Homo sapiens: one gene and its partners. The protein of the gene in region 3 purifies or fractionates together with the protein of the main gene of each other region. This does not show direct contact. Each region holds a gene or a part of one and is shown on either strand. Other genes may lie near its edges.

Region 1 (7,514 bases), on a different chromosome or scaffold from region 3:
TTATAAATTAAACCTCATTTAAATGCATTCTAGGACCTTAGAAGTTAACAAAAACATTCATAGCAGGATGTCTTTTACACTTGATCTTAGCCAAAAGACCAAGAAGCGATGCAAGATGCCTTTTAATGGAGAGAGTCTTCTTACTAATCCTATGTGTATATCCTGATTTTCTTCAATATGTACTTTTTAAATTTTAAGTTCCAGGGTACATGCTCACGATGTGCAGGTTTGTTACATAGGTAAACGGGTGCCATGGTGGTTTCCTGCACCTATTAACCCATCACCTAGGTCTTCAATATTTTTTAAAAACTCATTTCCAGTGTGTGTTTAATAGTAATTTAACAAGAAAAATAAGATCTCAGATGCTTTATCAAGCTCAGCTTCTTCTATGGAACAGAAAAACTTAGCAATATTGGGGTTGAATCCTTGTGAAGAGCTATACATACCAAACTCTATCCTAACCCCATATGCTTATTACAAATTATAATTCCAAATTTTATCACCAAATCAAACTCAGAGTAATAGAAAAGAAATATTTAACACAAACTAATAATTAAAACACAAATTTCACCTATTGTTCAGGATATCTTTTTGAGAAAGGTTTTTGTTAAAGAAAATTTCAGATACAAACATAAAGAAAATTAAACAATCAATCCCCATATTCCCAGCTCTCAATAATGAGCCACTCATAGCAATCTTTCAACTTACTTTTAATCCATATTTTGAATCCACAATAGTTATGATACCTACAAAGGAAAAAACATTTTAATCACTTTTTAAAAAGAATGCTTATTAATACTTGTGCAACCATACTTCAGAATGAAAATTAAAACTAACCTATTTCAGTTCACAAATACTACTCAATAAAACAATGTACTGTTTTTTTCTCTTGCCAGTGCTGCCATTTAATTAAATTCCAGTAATAAGTCAATGCATTTCCTGAGTGGCTAGCACTATTTTAAGGCACTAGAGAAGATATAAAACAAATAAAAATTTTAAATTAAATAAATAAGAAAATAAGATTTCCTTGGCACTGAAAAAGCTTACAATCCAAAATATAAGTCAAATTTCATAACATAGTCAAATGTGATAAGTACATAAGACAGGTTATTTCTAGTTTATTTTCACATAATCAAAATCAAGACTTTTCTTAAGATTTAAATTATTGCCTAAAGAATGAGACATCTTAAGGTATCATTCCTAACATCTCTCACCAAATCCAAATCCAAATCCAGCTCATAAATGTTTTACATAACATATGCCTAAGTTTCCAAACTACCAATTCATTTTGCAATCTCTGAATATATGCTGATAACAAAAGAATGAGTTTAATTATGCTAAGGAATTCAACCAGTTACCCGCCACATATATTAGAGCTCAATGATGGGGCCCAGCTTAATAATTCTTAAATTTCTTAATGATTATTACTTTTGAAAAAGTAAGAAAATTTCGACTGGTTTTTAAAAAGGTGAAAAAGGGAAAGAGAAAGGGAGAAAACATAGTCGCTTAACTAAGAAAGTTTCTAATATATTTTAAATGAAGGCATATCATTGCCCAAAAGTGTTCAGGTAAATAAAGTAAGGGAGGAGTGTTTAATTCTTATCTTCAAGAGAAAATAAAAGCAAAAATATGATCCTCATATTGCCTGGAGGATTAAAATAAAAGGCTCTAACATTATATTAAGGGCATAAATCAAACAACAGAGGATACAGAAAACCTACAAAGCATTTTTTTTTTTAAAGAAAACCTTAGTGGAAGCACTAAATTGGAAGTTGAGTGACATCGATTTCCACCACTGTTTGGGGTTTTTTAATCTATATGAACAAAGATTTCATCATTAAACTAAAGTGTGAAAAGAACAACAATGCAAGGAATTAAAGTTATAATATGAATGAACAACAATAAGCTTAACCATAAAGATTTTACTAAAAAACAAAAGAGGCAGGGTGTGGTGGCTCACGCCTGTAATCCCAGCACTTTGGGAGGCCGAGGCTGGCGGATCACCTGAAGTCAGGGGTTCAAGACCAGTCAGGCCAACATGGCGAAACCCCGTCTCTACTAAAAATCCAAAAATTAGCCAGGTACGATGGTGCACGCCTGTAGTCCCAGCTACTCGGGAGGCTGAGGCAGGAGAATCACTTGAACCCAGGAGGTAAAGATTGCAGTGAGCCGAGATCATGCCACTGCACTCCATGCACTCCAGTCTGGGCAACAAAGTGAGACTCTGTCTCAGAAAAAAAAAAAAAAAACAAAAAAAAAAACCAAGAAAGATAAAAGAAAACTGTTTTTTAACTTACCATCAAGGTAAATATCACTCCCTAATTCAGCATCAACCCAAAACATAGAAGCCACTGCACCTGAAAATATATAATATTCATCAAATAAAAATATTTCTTCACACTGAGAAACATGATTCTATCCATGTTTTAATTTGCCCTGATAAAATTAACAGGTAAACACATATATCTTCTTATGGAAATTATAGTGATAGAAGCTTTAACTATTTATAGCAAAAGGGAATTATAGTGATAGAACCTTTTACTATTTATACCCATTCCATTTCCATCTCTCGTTATTTCCTTTAAAAAAGACCAATTCTAACCACATATAAACAAAACATCATTCTTCTACCGATGCCATAATAATTTAATTAACAGATATTATCAAACAATTTGAGCAGTATGGCTTTGTGCACATCAGACTTATTTTTATTTTCTCACCTCTTTAATATGATAATCATTCAATCATAAATAGTGAATTATCACTCTAAAGGAAAAGGAAAACAAAACATAGATAATTCCAAAATCACTTGCCCAAAAAAAATTTACTTGTAATCTGTGTAGAACTAGAAGTAAAATTATATACTCTATGGCATTACTAATTATTCCTCACACTATTTATTTAGGACTGTATAAAACCTGGGTCTTAGGAAAAATTTTTCCTAAATAATAAATTAAAACTTGCTTTTGACAGAAATTGGTTCAGTACCAAACCACATACCCTGATTAGTATGCCACAACGCAAGAAAAAGAAAACTGACAGCAAGGAAAGTATTTGATTTTTGAAAGCATCACAGGCCCAGTTAGTGACAGGGCTGTCTAAAAGAATGAGTGTAGGAGAAAAACAAGGATAATCAAACTCATTCCAACGTCTAAAGCTGTCCACCTGCTCTGACAAGATGTGGTCCCCCAAGCATCACTCTGTGTCAACAATGAAATACCGGTCAGCTGTTTACAGTGATTACTCATGCAAGATATAGCAAGGGCCACAAGATCTAATGGTTTCCTGATACCTATTGATTTTTTTCCCAAAAACGTAATAGTTTTCCAATTTGACTCAAATAGGATTTGTGAGTAACAGGGGCTGAATCAATGTCCGTTCTTTTCAAGGAAATTACTTTACCATGACAATTATTTAACTTAGAACTGGAGAGTGTCAGTCTCCAAAATGGGAAACAACTGAATTGCCAATAAGAATTCTGTTCACTTTCTTGGCTAAAACATGATTTTAATTAATGAGGGGGAAAATTAAATCTACTGTATCACTACTCCAAACAATAAGTCATTTAAAAAAGCATGAATTTTTTCACTCAGTAAAATATCTAACATACATAAATCATTTTGTAATTTTTAAAAATTCATTGATTTTTAGTCTAATAAATAGTTTACAAATCCTACTGTTAATATTTGCCTCTTAAGTTGAAATGTAAGAGTATATTAATGCTTTATTCTAAAACTGGTATTTATCTTTGATATAATACTTGCCAGACTACATGAGAAAGATCTATTTAAAATTTGGATGTAGGTATTTAGGAGGAGTAAAGATGAATGAACAAAATTGATTAGTGGCTCTCAAACCAGGGTGCTTTTCTCCCCAGGGAATATTTGGCAATGTCTGAAGATGTTTTTGGTTGTCTTAACTAGGGGAATGCTACTGGCATCTAGTGGGTAGAAGCCAGGGATGTTGTTAAATATCCTACTCTGCACAGGGCAACCCCCTCACAACAAATAATTATCCAACCCAAAATGTTATTTGTGCTGACACTGAGAAAACCTGAACTACATTTTAGAATCTCCCTTCTTCAAAATCTAATAAAACAAAAAATAAAAATAAAAAATAAAACAAAAAGGCCAACATTTTATTAGCAGCAACCAAATATAAAAGGGCCTGCCATAAATTTTGAAGACTGATAGTCAAAATAAGAAACAAAGTTATATGTGATTGATGGTCATTCCCAACTCTACCCCTACCTCCAATAAGAGGTTGTAGGGAAATAGTTTACAAAATCCTAAACACTTACCAGAAATACACTCCAAAATGGCAAAAAGTAGAGCCGAGGAATGAATAAGCAACAGAGGGAAAAGTCAACAAAAAAATTTCAAGAGTGAGTTTTAACCATCTCCATGCTTTGGGAAGGAGAAGGTCAGGTCACATTCTAGGGCTCAGAACAAAGAGAAATGAGAGGTCTGAGGTCGAATGATGTCCCCATACAAGGCAAAGGAATTTTATTCATAAGCAGTTGGGCAGACCCAAGAGTGAAATACTTGGTACTTCAAGAGAGCAGAGCCTAAAAGCCACATTGCCCCATTTGGCTCTCTGAATCACCACTTTTCCCTTCTCTTTCCCTCCACTCCAACAATATACAGCTTTCAAACTAGGGCTCAGGAGAAAAACAAACTTGGGTAAGGAGAGTGGAGTATTAAAAATATTTCCCATCAGCACCACATAGAAGTTCTCCCATATCAAGAAGAAACTTGTATGCATATGTATTACAGCCTGACAAAAAGAAATACACACATACAGGGAATAAAAAGCAAGAAAGAACACAAAATGAAGAAATGAATAGGGCATACAAGTGGCAAAGAACCCATTCTGGAAGGATACATAACCCAATAAAAACTAAAGAAAATTCTCAACAACTTCATCATAATGAAGAACTTGAAAACAATACAACCTTATAATAAACAAGCTCAAAAGCAAGAAGCAGAATAAGATGAAAATGCAGTTTGTAGTGCTAAAGAAACTTAGAGCCTATATAACACAATGACTTAACCAATTAATTCATTTAAAATATCAAAAACAGGACAGATACTGGAGAAAACAGAATTATTGACAAAAAGAAAGGCTTCAGATGATCACAGTAAATGCAAAGGTAAAAGACAAATCAAAGCAATTAGAATACATACGAAGAACAAAAGAAAATTCAGTATTAAAAAAACTGGTGTCATGAAGTAGAGGATCTAATAATTTGACCAAAAAAAAGTATTCATGGTAACAAACAAGGAAAATGTTCTTAGAAGAACTAAGGGCATATTATAATTTAGGGAAAAATGATTATAAGTGACACTTAGATATACCTTGTTTATATTACTGAATTTCAAAAATAAAGAAGAAAACTCTCAGGCATTTTAGATTAAAAAAAAAAAAGTGCCTTCAAGGAGGGAGGGAGAAAAATCAGACTTTTCTACAGTAACACTAGATGTCCCAAAATAATAAAACAGTGACCACAAAGTTCTAATGAAAGTGTTCCCAAACAAGTTATTTTTCAGGAACGAAAGCAATAGACAGACATTCTCAAGCATTAAAGAAAACAGCAAGCATTGAAACTCAGAGACTATAATACTCACAAATTCTTCCTAATAAAAGGAGAAAACATTGGACAAAGAAATCCAGCCAATCAAACACTAGGAGATTATGGAACAACATTTACAAAGTTGAGGGGGAAAAAAGTGTGACTGATAAATTTTATACCGAGCCAAGTAATCCTTCAAGTAATATAAAAACAAAAGACAAATATTTTGAATCAATGAAGTGTATAAGAACCCAAAGAATGCATGCAGTACCTGTAACTTGAAAAGACTGCCTGACAATGAAATTCAATCAGGAGATGGACTAACTCGGGAATGGAGAAGCAACAGTACTGGTAATGAGCACCAAAACTATTAAAACATAGAACTAAAAGAATTATGACAGAACCATGACAACATAAAGAATATGATCAACATGAAACTAGGCCAATTAATATCCTACAATGGCCTCTAAGTGTTCAAGTGAAAGGAACAGTCACCTGTTTCTCACTTTAAATCAAGAGCTAGAAATGATTATGCTTAGTGAGAAAGTTATGTTGAAAGCCAAGATACGCCAAAAGCTAGGTCTCTTGAGCCAGTTAGCTAAGTTGTGAATGCAAAGGAAAAGTTCTTGAAGGAAATTAAAAGTGCTACTCCAGTAAACACACAAATGATAATAAAACAGCCTTATTGCTGATATGAAGTGGTCTGGATAGATGATCAAACAAGCCACAATGTTCCCTTAAGCCAAAGCCTAATTCAGAGCAACCCTAACTCTCTTCAGTTCTATGAAGGCTGAGAGAGGTGAGGAAGCTAGAGAAGAAAAGTTGGAAGGTAGCAGAGGTTGGTTCACAAGATTTAAAGAAAGAAGCCATCTCCATAACATAAAAGTGCAAGGGAAAGCAGCAAATGCTGATATAGAAGCTGTAGTAAACTACCTAGAAGATGTAGCTAACATCATTCATGAAAGTAGCTACACTAAGCAACAGACTTATTTTTTATTTATTTATTTATTTATTTTGAGATGGAGTCTCGCTCTGTCACCCAGGCTGGAGTGCAATGTGCAATCTCAGCTCACTGCCACCTCCGCCTCCCGGGTTCAAGCCATTCTCCTGCCTCAGCCTCCCAAGTAACTGGGATTACAGGCTCCCACCACCAAGCCAGGCTAATTTTTGGTATTTTTAGTCGAGATGGGGTTTCACTATGTTGGCCAGGCTGGTCTTAAACTCCTGAACTCGTGATCTGCCCATCTCGGCCTCCCAAAGTGCTGAGATTACAGGCATGAGCCACCGAGCCCGGCCAGCAACAGATTTTTAATGGAGATGAAATGGCCTCCTTTTGGAAGAAGATGCCATTTAGGACTTTCATAGCTATAGAGAAGTCAATGCCTGGCTTCAAAGATTCAAAGGACAGGCTGACTCTCTTGTTAGAGGCTAAAGCAGCTGGTGACTTCAAGTTGAAGCCAATAATCATTTACCATCCTGAAAATTCTAGGGCCATTAAGAATTATGCTAAATCTCCTCTGCCTGTTTTCTATAAATAATAAAGCCTAGATGACAGCACATCTGTTTACAGCATGGTTTATTTTAAGCCCACCATTGAGATCTACTGCTTAGAAAAAAAAAGATTCCTTCAAAATATTATTGCTCATTGACAACACACCTGATCACCCAAGAGCTGTGATGGAGATGTACAAGGAGATTAATGTTGTTTTCATGCCTGCTAACACAACATCCATTCTGCAGCCCACTGATCAAGGAGTAACTTTGACTTTTAAGTCTTATTTAAGAAATATATTTCATAAGGCTATAGCTACCATAGATAGTGATTCCTCTGATGGATCTAGGCAAAGTAAATTGAAAACCTTCTGGAAAGGATTCATCATTCTAGATGCCATTAAGAACATTCGTGATTCATGGGAGATCAAAGTATCAACATGAATAGGAG
Region 2 (7,616 bases), on a different chromosome or scaffold from region 3:
TTGTTATATGACAAATTAGTTGATTCTAAGTGAATCTGATTTATCTTCCAATTTTGGCTGTTAAGAGTTACAAAGATGTTTCCTTTTTAAGATGTGATAGAATGTAATAAAAACTTACATGTACATTAGTTTAGCTCTATATAGAATCAATATAAACTAATAAAATAAACAATAAGGAATTAAAAGACAAGTGCACGTATATGGTTTGAACATAAACATACGAGTTAGTTTCAAGCCTTGTTCTATTTAATACAATGTTTGAACTTATGAATGTATAAAGGAAAAACACAGCTAGAAGGTAATACAAACACTTCTGATATAGTTCATACAGTTTGAGAAGCTACCTATTACACAATAAGTACACGTAGAACCTAAATGTGAATTCTCATTTTTTGTCAAGCAGTTAGCTCTTGCACTACAAAACGCATCTGTATAATTCACATGCCTGTTCTGTTATTCAAGGACGATTGACATAAGCCTGTGCAGAAAGTTACATCTCATTAACCTCTTTCTTGAGTTTATATTCCCATATCTTCTGTTTCAGCATATTAGTGAGGGAAGCTTGTCATAATGCAGTAACACTTTCTTTCTTAACTTTCAACAAGATTTCTCTCTTTAAAATTCCTTTTTCCAAATGGGGCCCATCCTTTTCACTTTTGGTAACTGTGAGAATTTTAGCTCTTTGCTAACAGTTTTGAAAGTGTGTTAAATATATAATAGTGGCAAAGTGCTGGTCTACAATTATTTTTACTTGTGCTATCTGATATAGTACTTCATGTGGACGTGGTGATACAACACGACACTATTTCATTTTTTAGAAAAAAACTAGCAATCGTTTACCATGTGCTCTGCTTCTATCTTAGATGTTCCTCTCCCTCATGAAACTAAATTGGCACCAAATATAATCCTCTTAGTTATTTAATATTCTATCTCAGAAGAAAGTTGTGGGGTCTGTATTTTTTATGTTCTATACAAAATTCTCTTCAGATATTTACTCCAATCATGGTAGCAGTAGTTCTATCCTCATAAATGTATACAAAAGCATTGAGAACTCAGCTTTAGATGAAGTCAAATTTCTGGAGATTGGAGACTCAATCAGGAAGAGCCCAATAGCAGTAGTCTGCCAGTACCATTATATTTTGCTAGCATACTGGGCTGAAAATCTCCATTCTGTTCATCTGCTCTGGTCCAACTTCAAACATTTTTCCTAAGAAAGGTTGAGAGCTGATTGTTCCAGATCAAAGACATCATCATTTCAAGGCGAGCTATGTGCTTCCATTTCATCAGTATAGTTTCCAACCATTCCACACCAACTTCAAGGCAAGTTGAGCAAGTTCAGAAGCTATGGTTAGGTGGCAATGATATGCTTAAAAGATTATCACCAATAAGTGTCAGATTTCCTAAAGGAACTCAGATTAGTCCCACCACTGGTAGAGGAAATAACACGTGTAGGTATGTTACAAAGGCTAGAATCTGGCTGCCAACAGCAGGTTGAATAGAAACACTGCAGTTCATTCCCCTGTTCTTTCCTATAATGAAGCAATATTTTTTGTCAATTCATAATCTGCTTCATGTAAATACAATAACTAAATCTCCCAATGCAACATTCTGCCTATTTGCTTGGCATTGGGATCTGGGTTTCTTTCTCTCTTTCTCTCTCTCTCTCTCTCTCTCTCTCTCTCTCTCTCTCTCTCTCTCTTATTTAAACTAAAAAGCTGAACTATACCAGTCAATATAAGCTCATTTTCTGATTTTAAAAAAATCTATGATACTTCTGATTTTACTTTAACCAGTTAACCATTCCAAGGCCAGGGCCAGTGCCCCAAATATTCATCTAGTATTTTCCTCCCTTTTTCACCAGTGCATCTGTTGTCAAAGATTATTAAACTCGCACAGGGATTCTTGATTTTCCAGATGAAAAGTTTATAGAATCCCGGCTTTTTCTAATTCCTACCTCCTTTCTCCTCTGCTCCCCATATCCATTCCCTTCTAAACTTCTACCATTCACCAGCTGCTTGGAGAAAAAGGAAAAGCAAAGCGCCAGACTGGAGAGAGGCACTCCAGGGGTGGGTTAGCCCCTCAGAGCACCTGGGCTGTGTCACAGACCCTCATAATCGAAAAGTCAATTTCAAGCAGGTGCGTGCGCCCGGAATCGTCCTAAAAGCCTCTCTGCTGATGACAGGACTCTGACCCCAGTCTGCCCCCAGGAAGGGGCTATAGAAACGAAAGGGGCCTGAATCGGCGCTTTCGCCGCTCCACGGACCTCGAATGCAGCAGGTAAGGAAGTTAACCTGGGAGCTAAGTTGAGGGCGGACACGCTTAACGCGGAGAACCTGGAGCTCGCAAAAGCTCGCAGTTGAGGGCCATCGCGGAGGGAAGTCTTTCGGAAATGCGAATTCTCATTCCAACATCTGCAGCGCTTAGAATTCGCGGACAGAAGCGCACAGCCAAGTGCACACACTCCCGGAGGGGACAAAATGGGGACCGGGAAACGGCCAAAGGGAAAAGCTGTGGGGGTGCCGAGGACTCAGGCACTTGGTTCAGAAATCCCGCACCGCACCTCTCACCCCCGCACAGGGCCAGCGCACGGTGGTCACCCGGTCCCGGGGAGCGGAGCTGCAAGGACTTAAGTTTCACACTCACTTATCTGCAAGCATCGCCCAGCAGGAAAGCCAAGGAAGTCAGGGGAGGGGAGCGGGGAGGTGTTCTCCTTACCTCGGTCGGCTCCCACGGTCAGCACCCTGGCAATCGGCAATAATCCCGAGAGAGTGAGTAAGGCGAGGAGAAACTCGGACATTGTGGTCGCCCGGTAAGGAAGCCTGCGCTGGAGACTGCTCGGCGGCACCTTCGGCCCGGCGGCGGCGGCGGCGGCAGGGGCCGCTTGGAGCCTGGAATCGAGCGGCGTCATTTACAAATGTCACTGGAAATTCTTCAGCTCAATGAGTCCAGCCAGTCAGCCTTCTCCTGCCTGGAGCAGGATGTGGAAGGTGGAGGGATGCGCGCGTGCGGGAGAGAGGAGGCAGAGCGTGTGTGAGCGCGAGCGAGACGCCCGTGTGTCTTGACTTTTCAATGCAGGGTACGTCTGATCTTACATCACGCAAGAGGGGCAGTGAGAGATGCCAGCGGATGGGAATTCACTGATTAATCACCGAATCCACCACACACCCCTTCGTCGTTCACATAAATCACATCTATTACTTAATAAGAGGCATTTAACACAACAGGAAAATACCACCGCGAACGGAGAGCGCCACAAATCACAATTATTTTAATCCCCTTGAAGGGAAAGTAACTCGAAGCTGGTTCTGTGGGGATTTGGGTCTTTGGAGAAGGGAGAGACTTCTGCATTGGCCTGAGCCAGCCAGGCGCCTACAATGCTCCGCAGTTCACAGCCAGCTGAGAACCCTCAGCCGAGCACAGGGCTGCTTCTGCAGGCAAAACAAAGCTTCTCCCTTCGTTCCTCGGAAGCTTCCTTCCCGGGAAGGAAGGACAAGCCAAGGAACAGAGCTTCTCTTAGGGAAATGGTTTCCTCGGCTCTACACAGAATCCCAGTACTTCCTGAATTGCACTTTTAACTTTTATGCTGAGCAGCACCTGGGGACAAAGAGGCAAAATTTAGTGACTCAGCAGAAACAGAAAGCAAAACAACCCCCAAAGTCATTAACCGTTGCGTAAGAAGGGAAGGTTAATGGAAAAGGCTATTGAGGTCCCCAGGCAGGGAACAATAAAGCAACGAATTGGCAGCGTTTTTCTCTGGGGTTCTGTCTTTAAAAGGGTACTTCGAGCCATTTTAAACAGGCTTTGAGGGTTTTGTTGTTTTTGTTTTGTGTTTTGTTTTGTTTTCCTTTTCCATATACTACAGGGGCGGTGTAAGAACTTTCCCGAGCCATCGGAGGCATCAACGGGAATCACTGGAATAATAATATTAGTAAAGTTGTTTTTATGACCACTTAAGTTTACAACATGATCATCCCAGTCCCTAAAATTTTAGTTTGCCATTACAAAGTGGCTACGGAATTAAAACTCAGAAATCTTAATAGTTGTAGACTTACTTTCTTCCTTGTAACATCAGGAATTCTCTTCTAAGAACAAGAGTTGAAAAGGTTTTATATTTAATATTTTGAAACTGGACATGAGTGGAGAGGAAAACTATGAGAAGGGAACAGAACTAAGGAAGAGAACGATTGAAAAGTGAAGGAAGATGCTTTAAAAGCTTTATTTACTTTGCTGTTTGAGACTTATAAGTGAATGCCAGCATTACTATCTACCTATTTATGAGAGTAAAATTATCCAGAAATATCTTTAGATGCTCCTTTGAAGCCATTAAAAACTGGACTAGATGAAAGAACACAGAGATGACTTTGCAGAACATTGTCAATAATCTGTGGATTTCACCTTTTTATTCTTACTCTGTGATTATAAATGTATTTTATGTCACTTTTTCCATGTTTTAAATTATAAAGTTTACTTTCCCTTGAAAATACAACCATTTTGTGTTTGAAATATGACTCCTACATTCAAAAGTGTATGCTTAATTTTTTTTTTTTTTTTTGAGACGGAGTCTCTCTCTGTTGCCCAGGCTGGATTGCAGTGGCGCGATCTCGGCCCACTGCAAGCTCCACCTCCCGGGTTCACGCCATTCTCCTGCCTCAGCCTCCGGAGTAGCTAGGACTACAGGCGCCCACGACCATGCCCGGCTAATTTTTTTGTACTTTTAGTAGAGAAGTGTATGCTTCTTTTCTTCTAAAGTTGTTACATGTCTAATTTTTCCTAGATGTTTTTATTATTTCATAATATAGTGTACAATATAGAATAAAAAGATTTTTTTACATATTTTACTTCATACTGAAAATTCACAAACTTTGAAATGAGTGGCAGAGTTTAAAGAATATGTGTGTGTGCGCGCGTGTGTGTGTGTGTGTGAGAGAGAGAGAGAGAGAGACAGAGAGAGATTTGAATGATGTGCCAAGTAATAAATGTTTCTTTCTCGAGGGTCCACAGACCTCTGTATTGTATGACAAACTTATTCACTGGGACAACGTAGCAGGTGTCTTTCTTACATGATCCCATTCAGTCAACTAGAAGGTCAGCTATTAGGAGATCTGTATCCACTTAACTCTTGGCAAGAAAATGAGGAGTGCTTACAAACCATACTAAGGACATCCAGATTCTTCCTCTTCTGAAAGATTACCACCAATCGCCCTCCACTTCACTGCAAAGTAAAGGAAAGCAGCCAGGAACAGTATGACCCACCAAAGACTTTTACCACATACTAAAGTGCCCCAATGCTATGATTAAAAATCACTAACTCATTCACTTCTGTAGTACGTGCAGCAGCCCTAGATTCCATGGTCAGCTTGGAAAAGGGAAAAGCTAGGAAAGATCATAAGAGTAGCAAATACTCAGGAGATTTTGTATTCTAAATATACAACATTCCAAATACGTAGAGCCTCCTAATAGCCTGTTAAATGAATTAGCCAGAGTAAAAACCATATGATCTTTTTAGATCATCTGGTTGACTTTTTTATTTCATTGAGTGGAAAAAAATCAAAAATGCATTGTCTGCACATTGTGACCAGAATAATAAAGCAAAATAGAATTCTTAAGTAATCACCAATTAAGTCAGTAATCATGAATGACATAGGACTCAAAACAGTTACTATAAAATAGTGATAGTAAATATGGAAGATTAGTTACTAAAGTATAGGCTGGAGCACCAATAAAAGGTAACATGATAAGCCTAATTTCCACTGTGAATTAATCTTAATGAAGTATTATCTATAAAATAAAATTTGCAGCTTTAGGCTGGACACAGTGGCTCACACCTGTAATCCTAGCACTTTGGGAAGATGAGGTGGGAGGATCACGAGGTCAGGAGATTGAGACCAATCCTGGCCAACATGGCGAAGCCCCGTCTCTACTAAAAATACAAATATTAGCCGGGTGTAGTGGCATGCACTGGTAGTCCCAGCTACTCAGGAGGCTGAGGCAGGAGAATCGCTTGAACCTGGGAGGCGGAGGTTGCAGTGAGCCGAGATCGCGCCACTGCACTCCAGCTTAGGGGACAAAGTGAGACTCCATCTCAAAAAAAAAAAAAAAAAAAAAAATTGAAGCTTTATTTTAAGACCATGATTAATAAAGATCTAAATGGTATAAAACCTCTCTCAAAAATTTGGTGAAAGTATAGGTGCTTAGGTATGCACCAGTACTTAAGTGGACAACAACACATGAACTTAAATGCTTGTTAAGAGTTTTTAAGACTAAAATTTATACTAAGGACACTGATTCATACCAAGAAGCCAAAATATGAAATAAACAGATTAAATATTAAGCAGAAAATATATATTTGCTCCAAAACTGAAATAAAGCCGGTGTCAAAATGAAATGGGATAAAATTGTCTGTCCCACATCAAATCTCTTATATAAAGTGGTTCTTCTTCCAGATATTCTTTGAAAATGACCAGTTTATAAAAGAAGATTGGTTTCTATGAGCATCAGTGAGGTTGATAAAAGTGTAGACCAAATTTGAGCTTTAAAATTAAATAATTTGCTCCTAGGTTTTAAATGACCATTGAATGTTAATGGATCATAAATAAATGAAAAGCTTAAGTATAATTTTCTATGAAATACTTTTGTTTCCCCATAATATATGCTTTAATGAAAAAATAAATTAATAAAGTGCACTATTAGTGAAGAGGGAAAAGCTTGAGTGAGCGTTCGAATTTTGTTTGTTACTAGGCTCCATTATAATTTATTCATTCTAATCAGAGTTATTAACACTGACAAGTTAAATTAATTCATCAAACTATAGAATATTATGAAATCTCTCATTAAGATAAATTAAACAAAGTAGAACCAATCATTCTTCCTTTTTGTTTTAAAACAACACATGAATGCTAATTATCAGTCAGTGGTAATCTTACACTTCCCAATTAGAGCCACAGTTTCCATACATGTGATCAAACATCACATTTCATTTCTGCTAACTTAATTATTTTTGTGAGATTGGATTTCTTACTGTAGATAGTAACAATTTGTGCTACACATCTGAACATCGTTAAGTTAGGGAGAGGACGTGTGTCTAAACAAGCTGGAGCTGACAGTCTGTCTCATGGAAGAGATGTGTGTGAAGGAGAGTTGGCCTGAAAGTTAGGTTGCTAAGGATTTCTGCAGCTATCATTGCAAGGCCTGCTAAGTTTCTTACCCTGCCTTTTTCCAGACAGAAAAGTTGCCAGGCAGCAGCAGACACAAGATGAAAAAGAAAGGGAAGAGACTGAGAGAGACAGGGGGCGGAGGAGGTAGAGAGAGAGAGAGAAAGGATTATTAAGGAAACATCATCAGTTCTTTAACTTGAAACAGAGTTACTCTGGACAAAGCCTCTAAGAAAAATAAAAAACTTTAGATGCAAGTTATTTCTCAAACTGCAACAGATCAAGGCACATTTTTAACCGCTTTTCTTCAAAAGTGGGTTCTGTTTTTCAGCATACTGTCTCAATTAGGATACAAAGATTTGGTTGAGATAAATAAGATTTTGGTGTAACTTTAATTTTTACTATTAAGCAATTATTAGGAGGTATGCACAATTGAAAAGAAAATTAAGAGTGATGCAATTATCT
Region 3 (7,514 bases):
GACCAAAATTGAGGCCACATTGAAACCTTCTGTACCCAATGGCCTTCTGTACCCAATCTCTTAAGTATCTTGACCTAAAGGGAGGTCAGAAAACAATAGCCATTTTCAGTGCCACGACATCCATGAATGTCCATGGTCATAAATGAATACTTACTATGCGCCAGACACTATTCTAATCACTTTATATGCAATGACTAAATTAAAACTCACTGCAAGATTGCAGGCAAAGGGAAATAATATCACTGTTATTCCATTTTATAGTTGGAAAGACTGACAAATACGGCTGGTAAGTACAGAGCTGGGCTTAAAAATCTAAATAGTCTGACTGCAAAGTTCACACTCTTAACCACCATGCTATAGTATAAGAATGTCAAGGTTATTGTGAAACCACCGCACCCATCCATGACTTGTTACCCTGTCCAAGGTCAGCACTGACCAGAGAGTCAATTACTTATGCAACAAGACTACAGATGATTTTTCAAAATTAACTTTTTTATTAATTTAAAAATCCAGAAATACAGTGACTACATAAATAAGTACCATAATTAGGTACATGTCCTGTGAGAACAGTGAAAGGGTAATACTGTTATGTTACTCTTACTTGTTTACATGAGTTAACTAGAAAATGGCTACAACTGCTAAATGATGCTTATGGTCTTTGTTGTTCCAAGTGTTTATGATACAAATAAATACACAAGAAGAACCACATCCATTCTTCTCTACTAACTACAGGCAGCTTGGCCTCTTTACCCTATGTCCTATTCTCTACACAACACCAAACACTGGAGGGTTTCTACTTTGACTTAACACAGCTCCCCAGCTCCTGCTTCCCACAGCATTTTGCAAAGGTGTGTCCCAGCACCTGGAGGCAGGAGTATATCTAGGGAAACTCTCTGCGTGTTCTCTTAAGGCTAAGCTTTCAGAGAACACCTGGGTGGGAAGGCTTTGGGATGAATCATCCAGAAGGAGAAACACCTCTTTGCCTTAGGATCTAGTTACTAGTCTCCACATTATGGAATCACTGCCACCTCTGGGACGGAGGGAGCAGCCGCATAACACCTTCCCCCCTTTACCACACACACACACACACACACACACACACACACACACACACACACACAAACTAATGCTTTGTGACCTCTCAACCGGGATGTACTGCTTCTCTCTTCCAAGGAGAACGTGTGTGATGTGCTGGTGAGAGTCTTGTCCCAAGAAACCCTGGCCATAAGGCCCTTGTGTCTCTTTCATAAGAATTGACTCCTTTATGCCAGGTTGTCATAAAGACTGAACATTTTACATTTTCCCCTATTGGTATCAAACCCTCTTAGGAAAGAATTCTCTCACCTATAGTCATGGAATGAGACATATGGGGTTTCTGGGTCCTTAAAACATTTCTACAGTTCATTCCTGCCCCTCAGAGGGAACAAATCTAGAAGGCATGCCTGAGATCCTTGCTGTGAAGAATTAGGTCTTCCCACAAAGATGATTTCTAAAGCCAGACCCCAGAATGGATAGTTTATGCTCTGGTATTGGGCTGCAAGTAGACATTTTAGGAGCAGCCTTCTCTGGAATTCTTGACTAAAATATCTGCTTGATGAATAAGACAAGGATAGTAGGAAGGTTTAGGATAAAGATCTTCATCAGAATATCCACCTCCCTAAATGAACAACAATTTTCTTAACTGAAGAGTCAACATGCAGATGCTCATGAGGACCGAGCCACTTTGCAAAGTAAAAATCAACTCCTATAATTGGAGAAGAAGGAAAACTTCCCTTTTAAAGAGCTTCTAGAATTTACTAATTTAATATAATTTTTCTGACCAGACAACTATGGTCTCAAAAATATTAGTGAGTACTGATCTATTACTTGGTAAATTTTATTGATGTGAAAGCAAAAAGATGGCCTTTTTGAATTCTATCAACTTCTTTCTTCAACAATTATTTTTTCTTACATGGATTCAGTTTCTGATGATTTTACTCAATTTAACTTCTTTCTGGAAGTCCCATAGGTACAGGGGGAAAAGAAAAGTGGTATCATTAGGGAAAAATTATTACCACTTCTAAGTGAATGAATGAGGCTATGAAAGTGTTTTTATTCTTTACCCTGACTCTATTGTTGGTGACTTAAACAGCCACAAAGACCTAAGGGCAGAGCCTCTTGTTCACAGTTATTTACTCTCCTGGGCACAAAAACTTCCAAGCTACTTGGGATCCAGTCAAGGGAAAAGTAACGTAGAATCTTGGCTAGCTTTGCTTCAAATAAAGCTTTCGTTTAATGTGAGTGTGGACGTGCGTGTGTGTGTGTGTGTGTGTGTGTGTGTGTGTGTCTGTGAGAGAGGGAGGGAGAGAGAGAGAGAGAGAGAAGGAGGGAGGGAGGGAGTGAGGAGGGAGGATGGGGAGCTAATTTTTTTAAAAGAACACATGACATTCTAAAATTCAAAGGTATAATTTCATACAAGTAATTGTTCTATACTGCAGAACTCCTACTAAGCAATTCCCTTCTCTTTCTTTCACTTGAATAACTTTCTAGATAAAAACCCTGGGGTCTTGTTTGTCTTTAACCTGTAAAGAAATGTGATTCTCCAAGAAACTAGAGCAGTGTTGTGATGTTCTATCCCTCCTCCTCCCACATATAATTTAAGACTCTTCTAGTCTCTTTGGAGGAGATGTTCAAGGGCTGACACACCACTCCACACAAAGGAGCAAATTATGCTGTGCATGGCGTGAATAATTGACTGCATTTGAGTTTGGAGTTTTAGGGCACTGTTGACTTAAGCAAAATAAGCCTGCAGTCCAGCTGCAGCTTGAGTTTTCTTGCTTTACCCTATCCAATACTGTCTGTCTTGCCTAACAGTGGCCCTTTTCAGATCTCTCCAGGTACAAAACCTTGACTAAATCTTCAAGCTCTGTTCTGCATACACGACTTGAACACATCTGGCTGATCTGAGCTTCTCCTTCGGTGAAGATCTTCCACTGGCCTAAAAGGCAAACAAACGCAAAGTGGCCGGGAGTGTGTAAGAGGAAAGCAGAGCAAATTAGGAATAGAACCAATATACCCCATGCTTACCCACTTACTCATGGACCTACCAGGGAATTTGGAATACAAATATCACTTGGTTTCAAAAAATGGCCCCAAAACACTTTTCTAGTAGCAGATATGGAAAATGGGAAATGAAGTTTTCATTTCAACACATAGCATTTGTAAGAATCCCAAGAATAATATAGAACTGCCCCTCCTCAAGAGCAAAACCTAAGTGTTATTCTTGGAATTTTTACAGTATATTTAGCATTTACAAAATGCTTCAATATCTGCTTGTTAGCTATTTAGGCAGCTTACTTGGCACCAGGTCAAAAAGGCACTTTGGAAAACGGCACCTACTGTATTACTGGGGCTTTGCTTACCCTTAGGGTCCCCAAATATTGGTTTGGGTTACTTGATTACTATTTGATTATATATCACTCTTTCCTCTATTCCTGCTATCTTTTGTTAAAAACTTCTCGACGTTGCTTTCTCCTACGTCCACATGCTGTCCTTATACCCCCTTAGCACCCTAAATCCCTTCCCATGGTTCCTCATCCATTCTCATATACCCCATGGAATCCCTTTCCACGCAGAGTAAACTTGGCTGTAGCCCTTCCATCCCCTGTTGTCTCTGCCCACCCTGGATACTGTGTTTTGTCTTCTTTTTATTCCTGTGCTCATGGTACTGCAACCTGGAGAACTCCTAGTCCAAGTTAAGCCAACTCCTCTTAAGCCCAAACCTGTCTTGAACCTCTTTTTCTTTTCCTTAGCCACAAGAGAATAATGACCCACCTTCCCTATGGGCCTGATTTCTCTGCTCCTTTCTCCCTTGGATTTCTCCCTTTTCCCCATTCTCTATGACTCAATGGGAAGATAGAAGGAAAAACAAAAAAACAAGAAGAGGATTTGGGCAAGGAACCAGCTATTACTGAAGCCCTATAATGTGCTGGGCTCTGCTAGGCACATTATATAAAAGAGTTGGGTTTGTTCTTCTTTGCTCCTAGGTGACCCTGTAGGATCATACCAACTTCTTTCAGCTACACACAGTTTGAGGCACATACCTTCTACTCCATTATATACCCCAAATCCTGCCATGGGCACAGAGTATATCTAAATCATCTTTTAAGTCCCCTGGAACCTAGAACAAAGCCTTGTTCACAGTATGAACTAAAACATGTAACTTCAGAAGTCCCATAATTGATCCTAGGATCTTACACTCTGCCTCCTTTCTTACTCACATGTAAGGACTCCCAACTTTTCCATTTGAATTCTCATACTGTCCTGTTATTTTCTATGAGTCCTGCCAAAGACAAGCAACTGACTGCCTTGGCTCTTTTTCTAGCTGCCTATTGGACCCTAACTCTGCTCAGATGGCTCTTAAGCATATTAATTTAAACATGTTCCAAGTGAAACTCTTTTTCACCAATACCTGCTTATTCTTCACAGTTTCCCTGTTGGTGAATGGTATTACTATTCACCCAGTCGAGTTATTAATATCGGACCCATTCCAAACTCGTTTCTCTCTTTGATGCTGATCTTGTTGATTTAACCTCAGAAATGTTTCTCACAGTGACGTCTCCTCCCGTCTCATTGATTTAATATAGTATAATTAGTTCCTAATTCAGACTATCCCACTTCTCTTAATAAGGGTCCACCTTTCACTCCACACAGCGAGGACCTCTTTCTAAAAAAATAAAAAAATAAATAAAGCAGATCTGAATGCACCATTCACTTGCTTAAAAACCTCCACTGGCATTCTCTGGCCTGGAGATCAAGTCCAATGTCCTAGCATGATAAATTGGGCACTTCATAATCTGGCTTCGTCAAAGTGTGTGCTTAATGTAATATATGCATCTGATAGCCGAAAGACATCTTTCCAAAGCACCATGTTGATATCTCTATGCTATTTGCAGCAACTACAGATGCTACTTGCCTTACATTTGAACATTTTACTGGCTTTTTTTCAGGCCCTATGACTACTTTCTACCTCCAAATCTTCTAATCTTTTAGTGCACCTTCTGTGGCCTTTGTGATCATTCCTCTCCCCTACCCACATTTCCTGTTTGCTCCTGTCTGAGTCTTCTCTTAGGCTGCACTCTTTTCCTGGACTGATTTCCTGACCCATTGCCCAGTCATACCCTTCTCTTTCAAAACACACCTCCTCCCCGAAGCCTTCCCCGACTAAGCCCACCTGGCTCTCATCTCATTGTTCTTTGCAGATTCCCCTGAGCACTTTGATATTTAACTCCTCAGAACTATACTAATTCATACTGAAGTCATTTTCATGTTCTGTCTCATCCATTATAATTCCCTGTGGATAGAAACTGTGTGCCTTTTATCCCATTAGAAGTGCTCAACACCCGCCCCAATGCCTAGAAGTATCTTAGTCCCTAGGCTCCATCTAGTGTGGAAAGTGGGAGAGCTGCAAGTGTTTTTGAGTGCCTGAATGCTTTTAAGGAAACATGACCACCCAGGGGCAGTTCCCCAGGAGTAAAAGTGCTTTCATATAACACAGGAATTGATATGCCTTTAATTTCTCTTTGCCTCTCATACCCACCACCAGAGGATACACCCTTCCAGATGTGAAGTCTCCATAAATATACCAGACCTGGAATCTTATGAGCTTTCTCCAACCCTCTTGAGACTCTGTGCTTAGCAGTTTCATTAAAGACATTCAGGAAGCCTTGACCTGAGGTATCCTATGCTCAGACTACATCTGGGTTTGTATTCACCATGTCCAAGCTCTTCAGATTACATTCAGACACCCCATTCACTGCTAAGTCACCCAGAAGAGAGATGGAACATCCTTTAGTGTTGATACTGAGCAGTGCTAATGTTCACTGAGATTGCGGAGGGACTTTAGCTGTGGCTATGCTAAATTGAAAACTGAATGTGTTTTTCAGGGAGCAGTCAAGAGAAGTACTACTTACTCAGGGTTGTTCTGGTCACCAGCTTGAAGTGAGGAAGCTCCTCAAACATCCTCTTGGAGATCTTCTCAATATGGAAGTGCTGGAGAATGCCTAGGGCCAAGCAAAAAGTGGAGCAAATGGTCAGGCACTCAATCTGGAACCATCAACTCCTTTTTTTCTGCTCAGGCTCAGCATATCATTTCATTACTAGGGCTTAAGAGTATCGAGTTGGGCTGTGTAATGTGCTTAACCAGGAACTTGGATGGCTCAAGGGTTATAATTGACTCCATTTGTTTCCTTGGCTTACTGGCTTCCCCTCGGCTTCTCCAGTGGATGGAGATAAGGGAGATAGTGCTGCTGACCATGGGACTCTCTCCTAGGGAAAGCCACATGGAATCTAGCATAAGTGCTTACTGGAGCTTCTGCAGCCATAGGCAGTATTAGAAATTCTGCACTTGCCCCCAACCTGGATAGACTGTGTCCATGCCAAACCGCTGGGCTGCCCTCCTGGCTAAGCACTGAGAGCCTGCAGTGGGATTGCAGGCAGGTTGGTTTTGTAAATGGAGAAGCCACCCTTGTTCTTGAACTCACTGAAAAGCATATTTTCCTTTGGGAAATATTCACAGATCCTTTAGCCTTCCTTATTCATAAATGGGGAGAGTTAAAATAGAGTGCTCTCCACAGTCTCAACCTTGCCTGAATAGCTTTTATCACAATAACAGGTAGACAACTGACAACTGCCTTATACTGAAGGAGCAACATATTACCAGCCCACTTAAATGGGCGAAGTAGATTAAGCCTCTTTTTCTGTGTCCACCAAGCATAGACCTTGATAACCCAGAACTGTGAACAAGAGGATATTTAGACGCTACATTAGCAAGTTGAAATTCATCTGCACACCTCTGAGAGGCGAAAGATGTGGGATGACGAATAGTGGGCCCACTGCTGGGGAAACGCAACAAACCAGTGCCTAGTCCTAGGTGTCCTGTTATGGATGAGCTAGGGAGTTAAAGATGGCAAATCAACACTCCAAGGCATAGACCAAAAATAAGCATGAGTGAATATATACATGTTCAAGCATCTTTTTTTTAGGGAGAAATGCATTCTTTAGATAAAGGCTGTTGTCTAAAGGGAGAGAAAAAAAGCCTCATAAATACTGAGCAGTCTTTTTCAAAGCATGGTCCAAGTGCCACCTGCATTAGAATCATCTGGCTATTTGTTAAACACTCAAATGTTTGGACTCTACCCAAGGTCTACTGAATTCCTATCTCTGGGATGGGGCCAGGTATCTGCATTTAAAACCAGCTCCCTGTGTAATGGTGATGCATACAGAAGTTCGAGTACTCTTGAGCCTTATGTGAGAGCCAATAGCAAAAAGATGTGTATATTTTCCAGCTGAAATCTCACTTATCCACTTGGATTGTGAGGAACCTTGACCACACTAAATAAGCACTAGTCTTGAGCCTACAAAAAGTTAGAAGAGCTGTAGGATCACAATGAACAGAATGTGGCTTGCTGTGGTAGTCACTGTGAGTAATCAGAAAAGGAATTGAACATTGTGACTGGGGTTTCTCCAGTAAGACT

What was found.
Region 1: the proteins of CHRDL1 (region 3) and ZNG1C purify together in Homo sapiens (affinity purification with mass spectrometry; 2 studies listed by BioGRID and IntAct, with this or other methods). This does not show direct contact.
Region 2: the proteins of CHRDL1 (region 3) and LRP1B purify together in Homo sapiens (affinity purification with mass spectrometry; 2 studies listed by BioGRID and IntAct, with this or other methods). This does not show direct contact.

What each region holds. Positions count from the first base shown.
Region 1 is NC_000009.12:68,251,764-68,259,277, reverse strand, and holds part of ZNG1C (zinc-regulated GTPase metalloprotein activator 1C), read right to left. Parts: intron 2,358-7,514; coding exon 2,298-2,357; intron 747-2,297; coding exon 709-746; intron 1-708.
Region 2 is NC_000002.12:142,127,933-142,135,548, forward strand, and holds the start of LRP1B (low-density lipoprotein receptor-related protein 1B precursor), read right to left. Parts: upstream 3,085-7,616; 5' UTR 2,909-3,084; coding exon of another isoform or gene 2,798-2,908; coding exon 2,716-2,797; intron 1-2,715. UniProt on the Homo sapiens protein: Potential cell surface proteins that bind and internalize ligands in the process of receptor-mediated endocytosis.
Region 3 is NC_000023.11:110,673,385-110,680,898, forward strand, and holds the end of CHRDL1 (chordin-like protein 1 isoform 1 precursor), read right to left. Parts: intron 6,042-7,514; coding exon 5,952-6,041; intron 2,978-5,951; coding exon 2,847-2,977; 3' UTR 472-2,846; downstream 1-471. UniProt on the Homo sapiens protein: Antagonizes the function of BMP4 by binding to it and preventing its interaction with receptors. Alters the fate commitment of neural stem cells from gliogenesis to neurogenesis.